Linked DNA regions of Homo sapiens: region 1 is linked to region 2. The links come from fine-mapping of genetic effects on gene expression. A gene starts in region 2. The other region holds a variant in brackets. All regions are shown on one strand. Distances are from middle to middle. Region 1 overlaps DPYSL3 (dihydropyrimidinase like 3). Region 2 holds the start of DPYSL3 (dihydropyrimidinase like 3).

What was found.
Region 1: its variant is fine-mapped to the expression of DPYSL3 in blood mononuclear cells (TOPMed, PIP 0.92).

Annotation. Positions count from the first base shown.
Region 1 is chr5:147,472,008-147,480,354 of GRCh38, reverse strand. All of the region lies in intron 1 of DPYSL3 (dihydropyrimidinase like 3), which reads left to right. Among named protein-coding and RNA genes, the nearest start is that of DPYSL3, 34 kb to the left of the region's middle. The variant A/G (reference allele first, on the strand shown) is at 3,955.
Region 2 is chr5:147,505,655-147,514,001 of GRCh38, reverse strand. It overlaps DPYSL3 (dihydropyrimidinase like 3), which reads left to right and starts at 3,934. Exons shown (of 14, transcript NM_001197294.2): 1 at 3,934-4,524. The coding sequence starts at 4,144.

The sequences.
Region 1 (8,347 bases), 34 kb after region 2:
GGCTGAATGAATAAGGAGGGGTGCTGCCCTACAGGTTCATTGCCCAGATTTTGGAGGAGGGATCTCTACCTGACTGCTCCTAAGAGGGTGTGGCAAAACTGGGAGTGACAGCGCAAAAAGAAGCTGGAGGCCGGAGATGACTGCCGCTACAGGAGTGATGCTGGCAGGAACAGGCAAACGGGAAAGAGATTCTGTTGTCCTTTCTTTCGCCTTTTATTCTCTACGTGCTGCCTTCTGTTTGCAGAACTTAATAGGAAGCTAGCTGGTTAAGAATTCTGAGTCATGTAGTTTGCAGAGTAGTAGCCAAGTAGAAATCAAAGAGTATAAAGTGGTGAAGGCTGGGCTTAGAGCTGACAAACAGGAGGAAATAACAGGAATAATTGCTGTGCCTTGGTCTCATCACTGTACAATGGGGATAATACCTATATCATTAGATTCTTTTGGAGGATTAAATGAAACACCACTCAGTTGCTTGCTGATTGCAAGTGCCCAATAAATGCAAGCCTTTATATTATTCTTATTATGCTAAGCCTGATTTCTGTGTAGTCTGCTGCCTGTGCCTGTTTTACAGTGGGACTTGGGTGTTATGCTTGCTTCAGGGATTATCAGGCCATCTGGGAAGCTGGCCTTGCTAAGCTCCATGTGGAGAACAGGCTTCAAGACTCAGCATTGGCCCTTGTGAGTCAAGATGGGAACTTTCTCCCCAGAGATATTTAATTAGCTGGTTGTCAGAATGGTGTTGATAGATAAGATGCCTGTCTTAGATTGGCTCTGTGGTTGCTCTGATGTGGGATTCTCAGTTTATTTCATTTGTCACCCTGCTTCCTCTTTTTCCCAAAATAAAACCCCCATTGTGTTTCACCTCCTTTTTTCATTCTCTCTTCAGACAAGATAAAATGTCCTTCACTGAGTTGACAAGACTTGCGCTCCTAAACAGTTGTCCTGTGCACTAGGGATTTATGTTGCAGCATCTCTTAGAATATACAGCCAAAGGCGCTGAGACCTGAATTTCAGCAGCATAGCCCGGCAATTAAGGATTTTGATTGTGGAGTAGACACAACCAGGGTTTAAATCCCTGCTCAGTGTTTTATTAGCTCTATGACCTAGGGCAAATAACCTCTCTGAGCCTCACTTCCCTCATTTCAGTAATTGTATGTGTATCATATGTTGTTGGAAAAGTAAGATAATCCCTGTAGTGCTCTAAATCCAGAATGCTTCACAGTTTGAAAACCCTCAATAAGTAGTAGCTACTATTACTGCCTGTCTACACTTTTTTTTTCCTTTAATTAACTCATGATGTACTCAGGTAGAATTTATTAATGTATACATTCCACAAAAATTTATTGCTCACCTATTAGATGCCAGACACTGTGCAAATACTTGATAAAGAAAAATGAGCAAAAGGCAAGTCTGATCTGGTGGAAATGGAATAAAGTTTTTGTCTTCAGGGTGCTGACAGTTTGGGGAGACAGTGTCCCGAGGCTGACACTTTCCCTGACACACTTACAGTACAGTATGATAGGCAGTACAGTAGGGGTCTCAGAGAAACAAAGGGCCCCAAGGTCCCACAGACAGATAGAGAACCAACCTTGAGGGATAAGAAAGGTTCCCCACAGCCTCAATGTACATTTGAGATAGCCTGGCAAAATATATGTGTATGATATGGTAGTGGAAATGCATGCTGGTGTGTGTGGGGGGCAGAGGATTTCCACACAGAGGATCAATAAAGGAGAGAGCATGGCATGCTCAGGAACCTGAAACACTGTAGACAGTGGCATAAGTTGAGCAAAAGTCAAAGGCAGAGAGGACAGTCAAGGCCAAATTACACAGGGTCATACGGAGTGCATGTAAGGCCACAAAACTTAACAGGCATCTTGGACTCTCTTGGCTGCCTTCTTCTTTCCAAAGGTACCATCTTCTTACACCATACTTCTTAGATGTTATGATGTGTGTCTAACCAATAATCAGTTGTCTCCTTCTTTCTTACTGAGGCAACCCTGATTTTTTTGTTGACAGAGGCAATGTGCCCAGCTTAAAAAACTACATGTTCCAGCCTCCCTTACAGATGTAGTTATGCAGAGCTGAATGCAAGTTCTAGCTGATATTAATGTGTATAAGCTGGAGACGGAGTAAAAATTAAAATGTCAGAGTGTGTATTAAGAAGACCTATGAACTCCCTCTAACAGACCAATGAATACAAAGGGAATGTGTGAAGTTCTGTGAGACTGAGAGATATCTTATGTAGTGCATAACTTAGGATAAATCATTAATTGAAAAACATTTTTATGAGAGCAATAATGAAAAAGAGAGCTCAAAATGTAAGATACAAGAGACATGAATTCTGGTCCTGGCTGTAAAAAGCAAAATTGTGATTCTGGACAAGCTCTAAGAAAGGCAGTCTTCCTTTTCTCTCTGCTTGCCTTTAACATCTTTTCTTTATCTTCGCAGTTTTGCAATTTTAGTAAAGATTTAGGGCCGGGCGCGGTGGCTCACGCCTGTAATCCCAGCACTTTGGGAGGCCGAGGCGGGTGGATCATGAGGTCAGGAGATCGAGACCATCCTGGCTAACAAGGTGAAACCCCGTCTCTACTAAAAATACAAAAAATTAGCCGGGCGCGGTGGCGGGCGCCTGTAGTCCCAGCTACTCGGGAGGCTGAGGCAGGAGAATGGCGTGAACCCGGGAAGCGGAGCTTGCAGTGAGCCGAGATTGCGCCACTGCAGTCCGCAGTCCGGCCTGGGCGACAGAGCGAGACTCCGTCTCAAAAAAAAAAAAAAAAAAAAAAAAAAAAAAAAGATTTAGGTGTTTTTATTTTTCCTTCTCTGCACTCAATGTACTTTCTGAATCTGAGGATTCACATCTTTCAACAATTCTGGAAATATCACAGCCATAAATTATCTCTGTGAATATTGCCGCTCTTCATTTTCTTTCCTGTCTGGAGCTCCTCTTAACTTTATTGTGGATCATCTTTCTAATGTCCTGGTCTCTTAATCTCTTTGTTGTGCTTTCCATTTCTTTTCATTCAGCCAGGGCTATCTGGTCATAGTTATATCCTGGCTCACAAATTCTCTCTTCATATGTAAATAATCTGCTGTTAAACCACTCATTGAGTGTTTCATTTCATTGGCTATTTTTTTCCCACTTCCAGACAATGTATTCCGTGCCCTATTTTAAATCTGCATTTTCTGTTTTGATCATGTCTTGTTCTTTTCCTGTACTTAAATATTATCTGAATTGGGAATTTTGTCCGTTTAAACATACTGATTTTATTTTTTCTATGTAATTGTTTTATTTCATGAAGTTTTGAGGGAACTGGGGGGTACTTATTGTGTCTTAAATCTTGCTCAGAGTAGATTTTTTAAATGTGTCTGGTAATTTTTAATTGTGAACTCATGTGAGTTGGTGCTTTTTCTGAAAGAATCTGATGAACCTGATTCTAAAGCATCTAAAGGGTGTCTCTTTCTAATGCTTTTGTTTTTTGCCAGATACCCCAGTGGTATCTTTGCAATGAACATTGTTCATGTTAATATTTCACTTTAGGAATTCCTAAAATAAAATAAAATAAATGCCTAAAATAAAATTCAAACTTACCTGAGGGTCTTCTATTGTTACAAATTCTGAGGAGACTCCTCCCACAATACTCCATCAAGAACATTGGCCAAGAAAAATAAGCTCCATGTCATCACTCCATATACATGAGAAGATTTCACCAGTTTGCATTTTTCACTGAGAGACCAAAATTTACATGGAAGTCTCTGTCCAAATTCCTCCCCCTTTGATATGGACCAAAGGGGTTCATCTCTTTTCCTCTTTGAAGCGTTAAAACTCCAACTCTTGGTTACCAAGATGGGTAAATCCCCATAAGGCAGCCAAAGTGTCAGCTCTCCTGCTTATTTTTGTCTTCATTTCCCTTGTTTTTACTCCTAAATATGCATTAACATATTTTGCATTGGAAG[A/G]ACTAAATGATCTAATCTACCATATTTCTCTACTCATCATTACGAATATCAATTATTTTACAGTCATAAAAATTATCCTCTGATTGGACCCTGGATAACTGAAATTTTATGTTAATTCAAACAAAATTAGTTTATTTCTTCTTTTAACTAGATGATCATGGAACTAATTAGTATTGGGACTTAATTTTTCATTTTAAAATTATAAGTTAATTCACTTTTTAAATTTAATTTTGAATTTCATAATCGAGTTTGTGACCATTTGTATCTGTATCAAGTCCAGCTCTAGCTCTACCACTTACTTGCTATATGAGTTTGATCAAGTTACATAATCATTATGCCTCAGTTTTCTCATTTGTGAAAATGGCCATAATAATAGTATCAACCTCAGCAGGTTGTTATGAGAATTAAATAAGTTTGTACAAGTAAGATATTTAATAATTTTACTTCCCATCATTATTACTATTGTTATCTGCAGAAACAGAATCATAATAATACATTCATTTTTGAGGATATGTTAATTGATGCTACTTTGTGATCATGATCTTAATCCAAATAAATTAACTTCGGGTGTTTTTCAGGATAACTGTCTGCTCAAAAACCTTTACAAATATTTTCAAGAGTTTGAGTCATCTTCTTCATTATAGCATGTTAAGACAACCCTTTAAATGAGATTACTTCTATAGTTTGTAATTACTTTGATCTTTGCACCTTCCTAGGGCATCTTTTATTTATTCTGTAATTTAGTTTCTATTTATACGTTAACTTTGAGGCTCTGCTTTCATCTGTTCTTTCAAGGTATTCTTTCTATTCCTTTGAATAATTTTCCATTTTGAGCAATTTGTTTTAGGATTTTAATCTTTGTTTCAAATCTTTTGCTGTGATGAAGTTGTTTCAATTCTAAGAACCATCTCAAAAACCATATAGATGCCAGCATTCGGTTCTGGGTATATTCTTCAACACTTGACTTAGCTTTGCTTTTGAAGTGCTATTATTTTAACGTTTTATTTTGAAATGATTACAGACTCACAAGAAATAACAAAAATAGTTCAGAGATCCCTTGAACACTTCACTCATCTTTTGCCAATGGTCACATCTCACATAACAGCAATATGATATTAAAACCAAGAAACTAACATCTGTACAATACTGTTAGGTAGGTGGCAGGGCCTTATTCAGATATCACCAATTTTTGAAGGATATTTGGGGTGTTTCCAGGTTTTAGCTATTATGAATAGACCTGCTATGAACATTCCCCTACAGGTTTTTGCGGGGATGTAAGTTTTCATTTCTCTGGAATAAATGCCCAGGAGTGCAACTGGTAGGTTGTATGGTTACTGCATGTTTAGTCTTTTGGGAAACTGCCAAGTTATTTTCTTGAGTGGTTGTACCATGTTTCATTCCAACCAGTAATATGTGAGAAAAGTGCCATTTTTCATACATACTCTCCTTTAAGAAAACCTAATCTATGAAAATCCAGATTCCAAAAAATAAAGGATTTTTTGAGTGATGAAAATGTTCTACACTTAGATTGTGATGATAGTTACACAGCTCTAAATATACCTTAAAAACCACGGAATTGTATACTTTAAATTGGTGAATTGTATGGTATTGTTATATCTCAACAAAGTGTTTTAAAAAAGGCTATTACATGAGATGATCTAATTATATTACAAAAAATCTTATTTATTCACCAAATTTCTAATTTATTAAGCATTTACCATGTGGCAGGCATTATGTACAGTGCTTTCTATGCATTACCCTATGTAATCTCCATACAATCATTACCTCCAATTCATAATAAACACTGTTGTAAAAGAAGATAGTATAGAGTGGCTAACAAGGGTGAAGTTCTGGCACAAGACTGCTTGAGCTCAAATCCTGACCCATTCACTAATTAGCTTGTCATTTAACCATTGTCAGCTTCCAAATCCTTTTCTGTAAATGGGAATGGTAAAAGTACTTCCCTTTGTGAGGAATAAATGAAAAAAATGCAGATAAAAGCACTTAGGATTCTGCCTGCGTAGTATCATTATCATTATTATTAAATTCATGAAAAGACATTTTCCTCTTAGCAGTTCATAATTGCTTGATAACAGTGTTATGAGAAAGTGAACTATGTGTATTAATAAAAGATGACAGATTTTGTCATTATGTGTATGGGAGGACAAAGGAAGCAGATGACATTTACTGTTCCCCTATGATGCACCAGACACTGTACTTACTAGCCACCATTGTGTACATGATATCTGAACAACATTGTGTGATGAAAGTATTATTCATCCCCATTTTATAGAAAAGGAAACAAACTCAAAAAGATTAAGACAGTATTTCCATTTCATAAAGCAAGTATTTTATGTAGCCAGGATAGAAAACCAGGTGTTTCTGTGTCCAGAATTCATAATTTGCCTTTTCACCTATGAAAATAATTGATAAAAATGAGACTTTGCCTCAAACACTGCATTTAAGTTACAGTATTAAGATACTTGCAGCTTTTCTTTCCTCTTTATTCAGGAACAAAAATTTAGCATTTCTAAGGGTGTCACATTTAAAATATATTTAAAAAAGAAAATTGGAAGTCCATGTAGTAATTCAGAAAGGTCCCCAAGGTTTAATTCCACCTGAATTTCCAACTGCTTAGAAGTTGAATCACCATTTAACTGCAAAGGGCAAACCCATTGGTGGAAAAGTCCATTGCCAGAAGAGCTCAGCAAGAAGTGAAGAAATACATTCTAGAATTTAGAACAAGATGAGGCATCCTGTGCTGAGCTCAATCAGAAACAAAACAAAACAAAACAGAACCCCCAAATGAATTCCAAACTAAGAAGAAGAAAAGAAAATTGTTTGTGATAACATTTCATTCACCATTTCTCAAGTTTATTCACCTGTGGATTAATCTTTATATTCTTTCTCTTTCTTCTTCAAACTCCCTTCTCTTTAGAAGCTGCTAAGTGTTGTAATGGAAGCAAAGATGGGACTTTAATGTCAGCTTATTGAGAAAACCAACAAAGTTTTTTCTTTTGTAGTGAGTCTCAAAGATTATGTATCTCATTCTTCAGGTTTATTACTGAGGAACTTGGCTGTTGGTCTCCACTGGGAAAGAAACACAAGGATATGGAATTCTACTTGGAAAACTCAGGTCTTCCTGTTTGCTGGATAAATACAGAGACAAAATCACAATGAGCCCTCTCACATTGATGTGAAAAAAGATCTTTGGATAGAAACCTACTCATTTATTCTCAGGACTTTAAGTGCCCTGCTTCATGTTTTGGCATGTTGCAACTGACTTTATTTTATTTATTTTATTACAAGCAAGAGAAACAAAGTCTGGTTCCCGTATGATTTAAAAAAGAAAACAAAAGAAAAAGACTTGGGTTGGGTTAGGAGTTTCTCTGAACCATGAAAATGACCTCAATATTGGCTGAAAAATTTGACAAGAATGAAAAATGGCATGGTACAAGCTCCAGGAAGATGTTGCAGAGATGAGCTTCAGATGCATTTCATTTTGCGTTGTTATTAATGGCTTGGAAAGAGGCCATAAACCTATTATGGTAATTATGTCTGCAGATGAGGGTAAATAGGATGGTGTTATAAACACCAGTAAGCAAGAGACGTAGTACAGAGCAACCTAGGGAGATTAGAAATATGGACAGGAAATGAACAAACGAGATCAGCCTGGAAAAGTGAAAACATGCATCTGGAGAAATACATAATTTGAAAAACAGAGAGATACTTAAAGGCAGGGTCATACTTGGAAAGCAGTAATGGTAAATAGGCCTTTGAGCAGATATCAGCCCTGGATAAATTTGTAACATGATGGAAAAATAATACTCAGACCTGGTGTTCATATAGCCTTTCAAAATGCATTTTTTCCCAAACAGAGGCATTTCCATTATCTCATTTGATCATCAACCCAAAGAGGTTGGAAGCAAAGAATTCTCCACTGAAGAAATGAAAAGAGGTTAAGTGAATTGCTTAGGGTCAATTTGTTAATAAAATAGACATGGCTAAAACTTGGGTGCCTTGACTTTTCTTTTTCTTCTTTCACTATAACACCTCATCATTATGTCTTGCATCTCAGAATAGTAATTATTTCTGGTTCAGCACTTAGCCATCTCTTTCTGATGTTATGAACAACTTTATTTCATTTGAGACTGAGCATAGCATTACTGAACATTTGAACAGGGCATAACCTATGCCCCAAACCTATTTTCTAGGATGAAGTGAGGCAGTGTGTAATGGATGGTGGATCTCTGGATTAGAAGTCGGAGCTCTATACTAGTAGTATCACTAACTACAGTGTTGGCCATGGGCAAGCCATCGCTAGTCTCATGTGCTTCAGCTGTAAGATGGAGGAGGTTGATTGCTATGGTCTCACAGAATTGCTCTCTTTGAA
Region 2 (8,347 bases):
CAGGATTGCTTGGTGCATATCATTGCTTTCTGGGGAGGAGTTTCTGCCTTCTGCTGATCTAGAGGTAATAGAAGATGCCTCCGGAATACGTTTTCCTAGAGTTATAATCGGATATGCTATGTGCTCACATCACAAGTCATCTCAATACAAAGTGCCATATGATTTACTTCAGTTACAGGAAATGCAAATTTGATTTGGCGTGTGACAAGTTCAAAGCACTATTTTCTTGCCCACATTACAGAAATAGTTTGCTGTTTGTATATTGTTTTAGATAACCCCTTCCCTGGGTAGTCTGACTTACAGTATCTATAGACATACTGTTGCTCTTGTGTTTGTGATTGTCACAAGTAATGTATCCTCTGTCTTACTAGAAAGGGACATGACAAAATTGCCATGTGTTCATGGGGCTAATACCTTTGCTTGGAGTCGAGTGGTCTGATATTTCCTTATGTGAGTGTTTGCCTTAACCAAAGTTAACTTCTGTCCAAGAACAACTGGGGCATTTAGGGATATTTCATTCCATAACACCTTAACTTTGGGCTTCCCATTTATTACTTCTCTGGATCCTCATGACAGCGATCTATTATGGGTGTTTTTTTAAGAGCACAAGTTCTGTCTGAATCAGCTAGTGGGAAGTTTGAATTCCAGTTTGAAGTACTAACTGATACTTCAGGGAAAGAACTCAACTTCACTAAGGCTCATTTTCTCCATGGATAAAATGGAAATAATCATCACTTCAGATTTATGGGGTTCTTATGAAGGTTAAGGCAATGTTTATGAAATTCTAAGCACAATGGCTTGCTCCAGGAATGAAGTCCATAATAATTCTATTCAGTGGGAGGCAAACATAAAGGAGAAAAACACAAATAGGTTAAGCCAGACATTTGCCTAAAGCCACATAGTTGCAGAACTGGAGCCAGATCAGCCATTCCCATTTTAGTCTTTCTAAAATTTTAATAGGCTGCTGTACTTTCTTAATTAAACACATATGTGTACATGTAACTGTTACTTTTAAATGTGATACTTTGTCAACAAATGTAATTATTGTGCCTATACACTGCATCAGACATAGTGGTGAGGCAATGCAGCTATAACAATGGGGCTCACGTACAACTACGAAGTTCTGTTTGTATGCCCATGTTCCCATGCAAATATGCACATAAAAGTGTGTGTCTACATTCAGAATGTGCCCTCTCTCAAAGTAAACAGACTCTGCACGTATCCTCCTTCAAGTTATGACTCTTTTGTAACTTGGACATTCATTCAGAGCCTCTGCTTCCTCATTAGTAGAAAAGAAATAATAGGCCAGGTGCAGTGGCTCACTTCTGTAATCCCAGTACTTTGGGGGGCCAAGGTGGGCAGATGGCTTGGGCTCAGGAGTTCAAGACCAGCCTGGGCAACATGGTGAAACTCTGTTTCTGAAAAAAATACAAGTTTAGCTGGGCATGGTGGCACACCCCTGTGGTCGCAGCTACTCAGGAGGCTGAAGTAGGAGGATTGTTTGAGCCCCAGGGGTCAAGGCTGCCATGGGCTGTGATCGGGCCACTGCACTCCTGCCTTTCCCATCTGTCTCAAATGGGAGATGCTGTCTCAAACAAAAAGAAATGCTAGTACCAGACAGGTAAGGTTATTAAGATTAATTAAGATACTGCCTGGATGTCCTTAGCGCAGAGCCTGAAACTAATAAAACCTGGATAACCCTTAACTGTAATTGTTCTGAAGCAGCACTCACAGGAAATTCTGAGTCCATCACCAACCAGCATTTGTTAAGAAGGAGCAGCTGCCCAAAGGAAGTCAGCTTAAGAAGTCATAAATAATTCTGATAGAGCACAGGCAGTTTAGCAAGTGGCTTTCTCTTCACTGGGGATTGGGTTGTTGTTGTTGTTGTTGTTTTGTGTGGAATTTTGCTCTGTCGCCTAGGCTTGAGCCCAGTGCCGCAATCTCTGCTCACTGCAACCTCCACCTCCTGAGTTCAAGCAATTCTCCTGCCTCAGCCTCCTCCCAAGTAGGTGGGACTACAGGCGGGTGCCACCACGCCCGGCTATTTTTTACATTTTTAGTAGAGATTGGGTTTCACCATGTTGGCCAGGCTGATCTTGAACTCCTGACCTGAGGTGATCTACCTGCTTCAGCCTCCCAAAGTGTTGGGATTACAGGTGTGAGCCACTGCGCCTGGCCAGGGGATAGGTTTAAATTGTGTCAACATACCTGTCTTTGATCTAAGTTCAGGCCAACTTCCATTCCTCAATATTTTGTGGCTGTCACAGACCTGAGACTGACATTCCAGTTTCCGGAGCCTTTGTTCCACTCCAAAATCAGAGTTCAAAGGTTAATTTCATCAAATTCTATGTGGATGCCTTCAAAGAGTATGTCTATGCGCACAAAGAAGCCGGCCATATGCTTATGAGCATTAAATGAGTTAATATATGTGAAACAATTATAATAATGACTGGCACATAGCAATAACTCCATAAACATTTTCTGGTGCTGCTGTCGTTGTTATTGTTATCCTCCATTTGTTCAAAAAGAATGTATCAAGTGCCTGTAGATGTTCTGGGCACAAGATATACAAAGGTGAACTGAACAGACCAGATCTCTGCCTTTATGGAGCTTAGCATGTATGTGTCCATACTTGGGAGGGGGAGTGTTTAGTTCACAAAATAAACAAAGTTCTGTAAGTTGAGCAGAACAGTGAACGGCTGTGCTACCTAGATGGGTGGTAATAGACTACATTCTTGGTGAGGACAGGCCGATCTCTCTTGTTCGACACTGTTGCTCCAGCATCTTGTGAAAGCCATAGTGGGTACCTGATTTATGTTGGTTGACTAAATAAATAAATGGGTGACTTTCTGAGAGGGAGCACAGTTAAATCCGGCACAACAGGTTTTGGGTTTAGGTGGTGTGTGCAGATATGATGTAAGGTATGTAGTTTGCAGGTTCTGTTTATGTGGCAGAGTCGGCGTCAGAGTATACGTGGGTGGACGTGGGGAAGAGAATGAGGTTATGAAAGCACAGATGTACATAAGTAAAGTCTGCATACATCTGAGGTAACATGAAAAGCAAAGTCTTTGGTTGTGTGATTTTTGAAGTAAATCTGGGCTTAGGTGTGAATCTAAGTGTCGGTTCCGACTGAGGTAAACCTGGACTTGTGTCAGTGTGTGAGATTAAAATCTGGGGTTTGTTGTATGAGGGACAGAGCATCAATGAAGAGTGCTTTGCAAGGCAAAACCTAAGAATGTGTGTGTGTGTGTGTGTGTGTGTGTGTGATCTGAAATGAGGCAAATTAGGGGTGGTAAAAAGCAAACTAGGATATTATATAGAAGCTAAGAAAGGGCTTATGTGAGCCAAAGGGCTTTTGTGACTCTCAATGAAGTAAGAGGGCTTCTCTCTCAGTGTGTGTTTGTGTTGTGTGTGTAAGCCAATTCAGGACTTCATGTGAGAGTGTGGGTTTGCAAGGCAGATTCTAGAACTGGGTGTAGTTATGAGTGTCATCCTAAAGATCAGGATGAGGCAAGTCCGGGGTTCCGGGTAGGATTGTGAGTCTGTCGTAAATTTGAGTTTGTATGTGTTAGTTGTAAATCAGGACTTGGCTTTGAGATGAATCCACCTGGGTCAGCTGGGTTTTTGTGCACGAGGGACGTCAGAAAGCTTTGTGTTTGTGAGGCAAACTAGGGAGTTAGTGTGGGTGAAGCAGTCAAGTGCTGGAGTGTGAACATTTCTAAGACGTCTAAATTGCGCGAAAGTGTGTGAGGCAAGGCTGTTGCGCGAGCGGGCAGTGTGCGCCTGTGTGTGCGTGTGCGCGCGCGCCAAGTTTGGTTTGTGATTGTGATGGGCACCGACGCTGCGTCAGCCCGGGAGGCCACGTTAGGGTTGGGGGTGCGTGAGGAGGTGCGGCCGGGCGAGAGGTCCAGCGAGTGAGCCAAGCGCGGCGCTACTCTGGGCCCCTGCTCCGCGCGCTAGCTGGCTGTGTGGCTCGCTGGCTCGCTAGGGACAAGCAGGAATCGGAGCAGCACTGCCGCCTCTGGCGCGAAGGCTCAGGCGCCTCCTCCCGCCACAGTCACTGTGGCTCGGCGCACGCTGCCGGCGGCTGCCCTTTCCGCCTCTGGGGAAGAAAAACCCGCGGGCCGCTTTCGTGCTTGAACCATGGCCTCGGGCCGGAGGGGCTGGGACAGCTCCCACGAAGACGATCTGCCCGTGTACCTGGCCAGGCCGGGCACCACGGACCAGGTCCCGCGGCAGAAATACGGCGGCATGTTCTGCAACGTGGAGGGCGCCTTCGAGAGCAAGACGCTGGATTTCGATGCCCTCAGCGTGGGGCAGCGGGGCGCGAAGACTCCTCGGAGCGGCCAGGGCAGCGACCGAGGATCGGGGAGTCGGCCCGGGATCGAGGGGGACACCCCGCGCAGGGGCCAAGGCCGGGAAGAGAGCAGGGAGCCCGCGCCCGCCTCCCCCGCCCCCGCCGGGGTAGAGATCCGGAGCGCCACCGGCAAAGAGGTGTTGCAGAACCTCGGCCCCAAGGACAAGGTAAGGGGGCCCCGGGTCACTTCCCTCCTTGCCTTCGTTCCTTTCTCCAGCCCTGGCCGCCATGGCCCGGGCACAACTTTCTCCAGCTCACTTTGCACGGGGCTGGGGGACAAGGAGGAGGAAAGGGTCATCCTCCACTGAGCGTAGCGCGACTTCCTAGCCCAGACCCTGGATTCGCGCGTGTCGCCACTTGCAGCATCTTCGTGCAAGCGCGGAAGGGATGCCCGGGTTCCCCTGCCTGGAGCCGCGTCCTTTGCCCCTGCCTCCTCGCCGCACTCCTGGGCCATCCGGTCTGGGTGGGTGTGTCAGCCCGGGAAGGCTTAGTGATTTCCAGCTCTTCTCTCTAGTAGCCAACAGCACAATTGTCTTGCCCCCCTCTGGCCCTAGATTAAATCTCAACCCGGGTCACCACGGCAGAGGGCAAAGTGATGCTGGGAATATGGGGGTCATCTCCATAGTGCCCGGATGAAAGTACTGGAGGGGCGGTCTCCCCTCTCAGTCTTCAAACATCAGCTCTGTCCCTGAAACTTTTGGGTGTGGAGCCTCTAGACTAAACACGCGAATCTCTCTCTATGCCTCGCTTGTGTCTTAGCACGGCATTTCACATCTGTGTTTGTAAAGAGTGTATTTGTGTACATAGCTTGGCACAAGACTGGGTATTACAGGGGTCCAGCTGCCTCTGCAAGAATAGCATTATATTTTAGAAAATAGACGAGAGTATTAAGAGTGCACATTAAACTAGCATGAGATGCAAATTCCCTGCTGCTCTTAAATGTGCCAAAGCCAATTTCTTCTGTATGTGTATTTTTGAGAAACTTATGTCACACTGAACTGACTGAAGGGATGGCATTGAAATCTAGCTTGCCCTGATTTATGTGTCTATTTCACAGAGACTCAGAGATGTAGTTCAGAAAATGCAGGGCCTGGCAGGGCTGGAGACTTCAGAGTTCAAACTGAAGCTTTCAGTTGGGGAATAATAATAATCAGATGCCCTCACCCTTGTCTAGGTAATGGCCGCAAAATCCATCCGCATGTATTATTCTGCACTAATATGGTTAGGAATAACAACCTGAAATGGAAATGTCTGCCTCAGAGCAATTACAGTTAATGCTTATTCAGGTTTTAGTTGTTTTTCCATTAAAATGCAATGAGCTAGTGAAAGAACAGCATCTCTGTTCACTGTTTGATTTTTGAAAGTTTAGACAAACCAACCAACCAACCTTTGACTACTAAGACCACCAGGGAAAATAAGTGCTGAAGTTAGTGCTGTTCAAGGGTACCACTTGGAAAACAATGTCGGCTTCCTCTGAAATCATTCATTTAGTTTGTGATTTTCACATCATCCTTTTAGTGCGTGATTCCCCTAAGCCCTTGCTTACCAACGTTTTAGGGAAAACTTCTGATATTTTGCAAATGTTTTGGTTGATATCTAAACTGAAGAAGAACCCTATAGAAAGGTTATTCCTTTCTTCATGTCTGACTTGTCCATATTGAAATGTTCCCTTCCTGACTGGAACGGGCGGGAGTAGTGATGGAAAAGGTCGGTAACAATTGCTGTGAGTCAGTGCTATTCCCTTTGCTGAAACACCCCTGATGTAAGCCAGATAATATGCTGGGTTTGCAAGATTTAAGAATGGTAACTAGAGAAAGGGAAAATATTCCTCCTTTAAACCTAGCAATTCTCCCGTTTTCCTCCCTTTTGCAAACCCTATACTTTTGGCTACTAATTGAGAAATAATAATACAACCTAGGCATCAGCAGGATTTCTAGTGCTACATAGTCATTTGTAAGTTTGGGCTTGCCATCTGCTTCATCCAGGCCATGTTATTATCTCTAATTTGGTTGAATCACACTGTTAGAAGAGACCACGGAGGTTATCAAGTTCTGAACTTGTTGTTTATTTCCTTGAGGGTAGAGATTGTGTATTTGGATTTATCTATGTGGCTAGAATGCTTGGCACATTGGAGGTGCTCAATAAATGTTTGATACACTAAACCTCCTTAATTAAACCATCTGTTTTGCCACATAGCTGGCAAAATGATCATCTGGCCTCTGCTTAAATACAACCATTGTCAGGGAGCTCACTACCTCATGAAGCAACTTTTTGGACAACTTTACTTAAAAAAAAAAAAAAATTAAGCCCAAATCTACCTACCTGTAGTTTCTACAAATTATTCTTAGTTCTGACCTTTGGAAATATAAGGGTAAATATATTTCCTTATTATGAGACATTTTAATGATTTTTAGGTATGTGCACTCTTGTATCTGTCAGAAAAGGCTGGGTGATGCCATAGTAACAAACAACCCCCAACTCTCAGCAGCTTAATAAAAAACATAACAACATATTTCTTGCTCCTATTTGTCCAGTGTGAGTCAACAGGGAAGCTCTATTCATTATTGTGCCTAACTTGATGGAGGCTCCATCTCTACACATCTGTGTATAGTATGTGGCAAATTGTATACACACTTAATTCCTTGCTGAAGTAATGAACATGATGTGTGCTCACATTTCATTGGCCGAAAACCATGTCTATACTCAGCTTCAAAGCAACTGGTGGAATACAATCTTGCCATGATCCTGTAAGACTAGAAATATTTGGCAAATAGCTCTAATATCTCTCCCAGATCTAGAGATGAATTAATGGAGTGAAATCTGTCCCAACCTTTACTAGTTATATGACTGTAAGCATGTAACTTAGCCTCTGGGTACCTCAGTTTTCTCCTGTACAAAATAAGGATAATGGTGACTACTTTGCACAGTAGTATTCAGTACATATTAGTTATTACTATTACTCTTCAATTTTAATGCCCGTTACATGTATGAGGGCAATTATCTCATTCTCCCTAAATTTCTTTCTTACCCTTATTATTCCTAGCTTCTTCAGTCTTCTCTTGTATGAGCATTTTACCATCCTGATTTCCTTTTCAGGTTATATTATATTACATATTTTGTAAATATTTTTCTCAAAATACAGTGCCCAGAACTGAATATGTTGCTTCAGATGGGATATGACCATGGCGAAGTGCATTATGTTACTTAATTTTTTGGACTTTTACGGAACATATGCATCTATGACTTACTATTGTCTCCATGGCAAACACCCTGCCATTCAAGCTTTCAGAAACTTTTTTCACGTAAGCTGCTGTTAGGCCAGGATGTTCCCCTTCTATGCTGGTACAATTTAATTTAAAACAAACCACCCCCAAAAAAATCTTAACTATAGGATTTTATTTTTTCTTCCTTCTATAATATTTATCACTATCTTAGCTCATCTTTCTATTATATCATAATAATCTTAAACCTTAATTCTATAATACAGCACTCCTACTGCCAGCTTTGTACCATTTGTTGATTTGATAGTATCACCTTTTGAACACTTTCTGTGTGCCTATACTAAATAGTGCTCAAAAGGTCGTTTCCTCACAGAAAATGGTTATAACCGATAAGGAAATTGAACCCCAGAGACTAATTGTTTAGTCCCAAATCACATAAATAATAAGTGGGGGGAGCCAGAATTCACAATCTGATTTTTCTGATTCCAGAGTCTGTGTTCTTTCCAGGTGGGGAGGCTGCTTCCTTATTTTAATATGACCAGCCTGGCCGTCGTGTCAGCTCCTGACATGTCAATATTATTCAGAGCAAGGACAGATTTTCCTGCCACACCTCTAGAACCCTTCTTCTATTGTGCCACCAGCCCATTACACAGGAAACTTTGAGACCAGTTGTTCAACCTTGGAGAACAGTTGCTGCAAAATCCTTATTCTTTCAAGTTGATTGCAGAGCTATCAAAAGATATTTTAAGTGTCTTGGTAAAATCAAAAT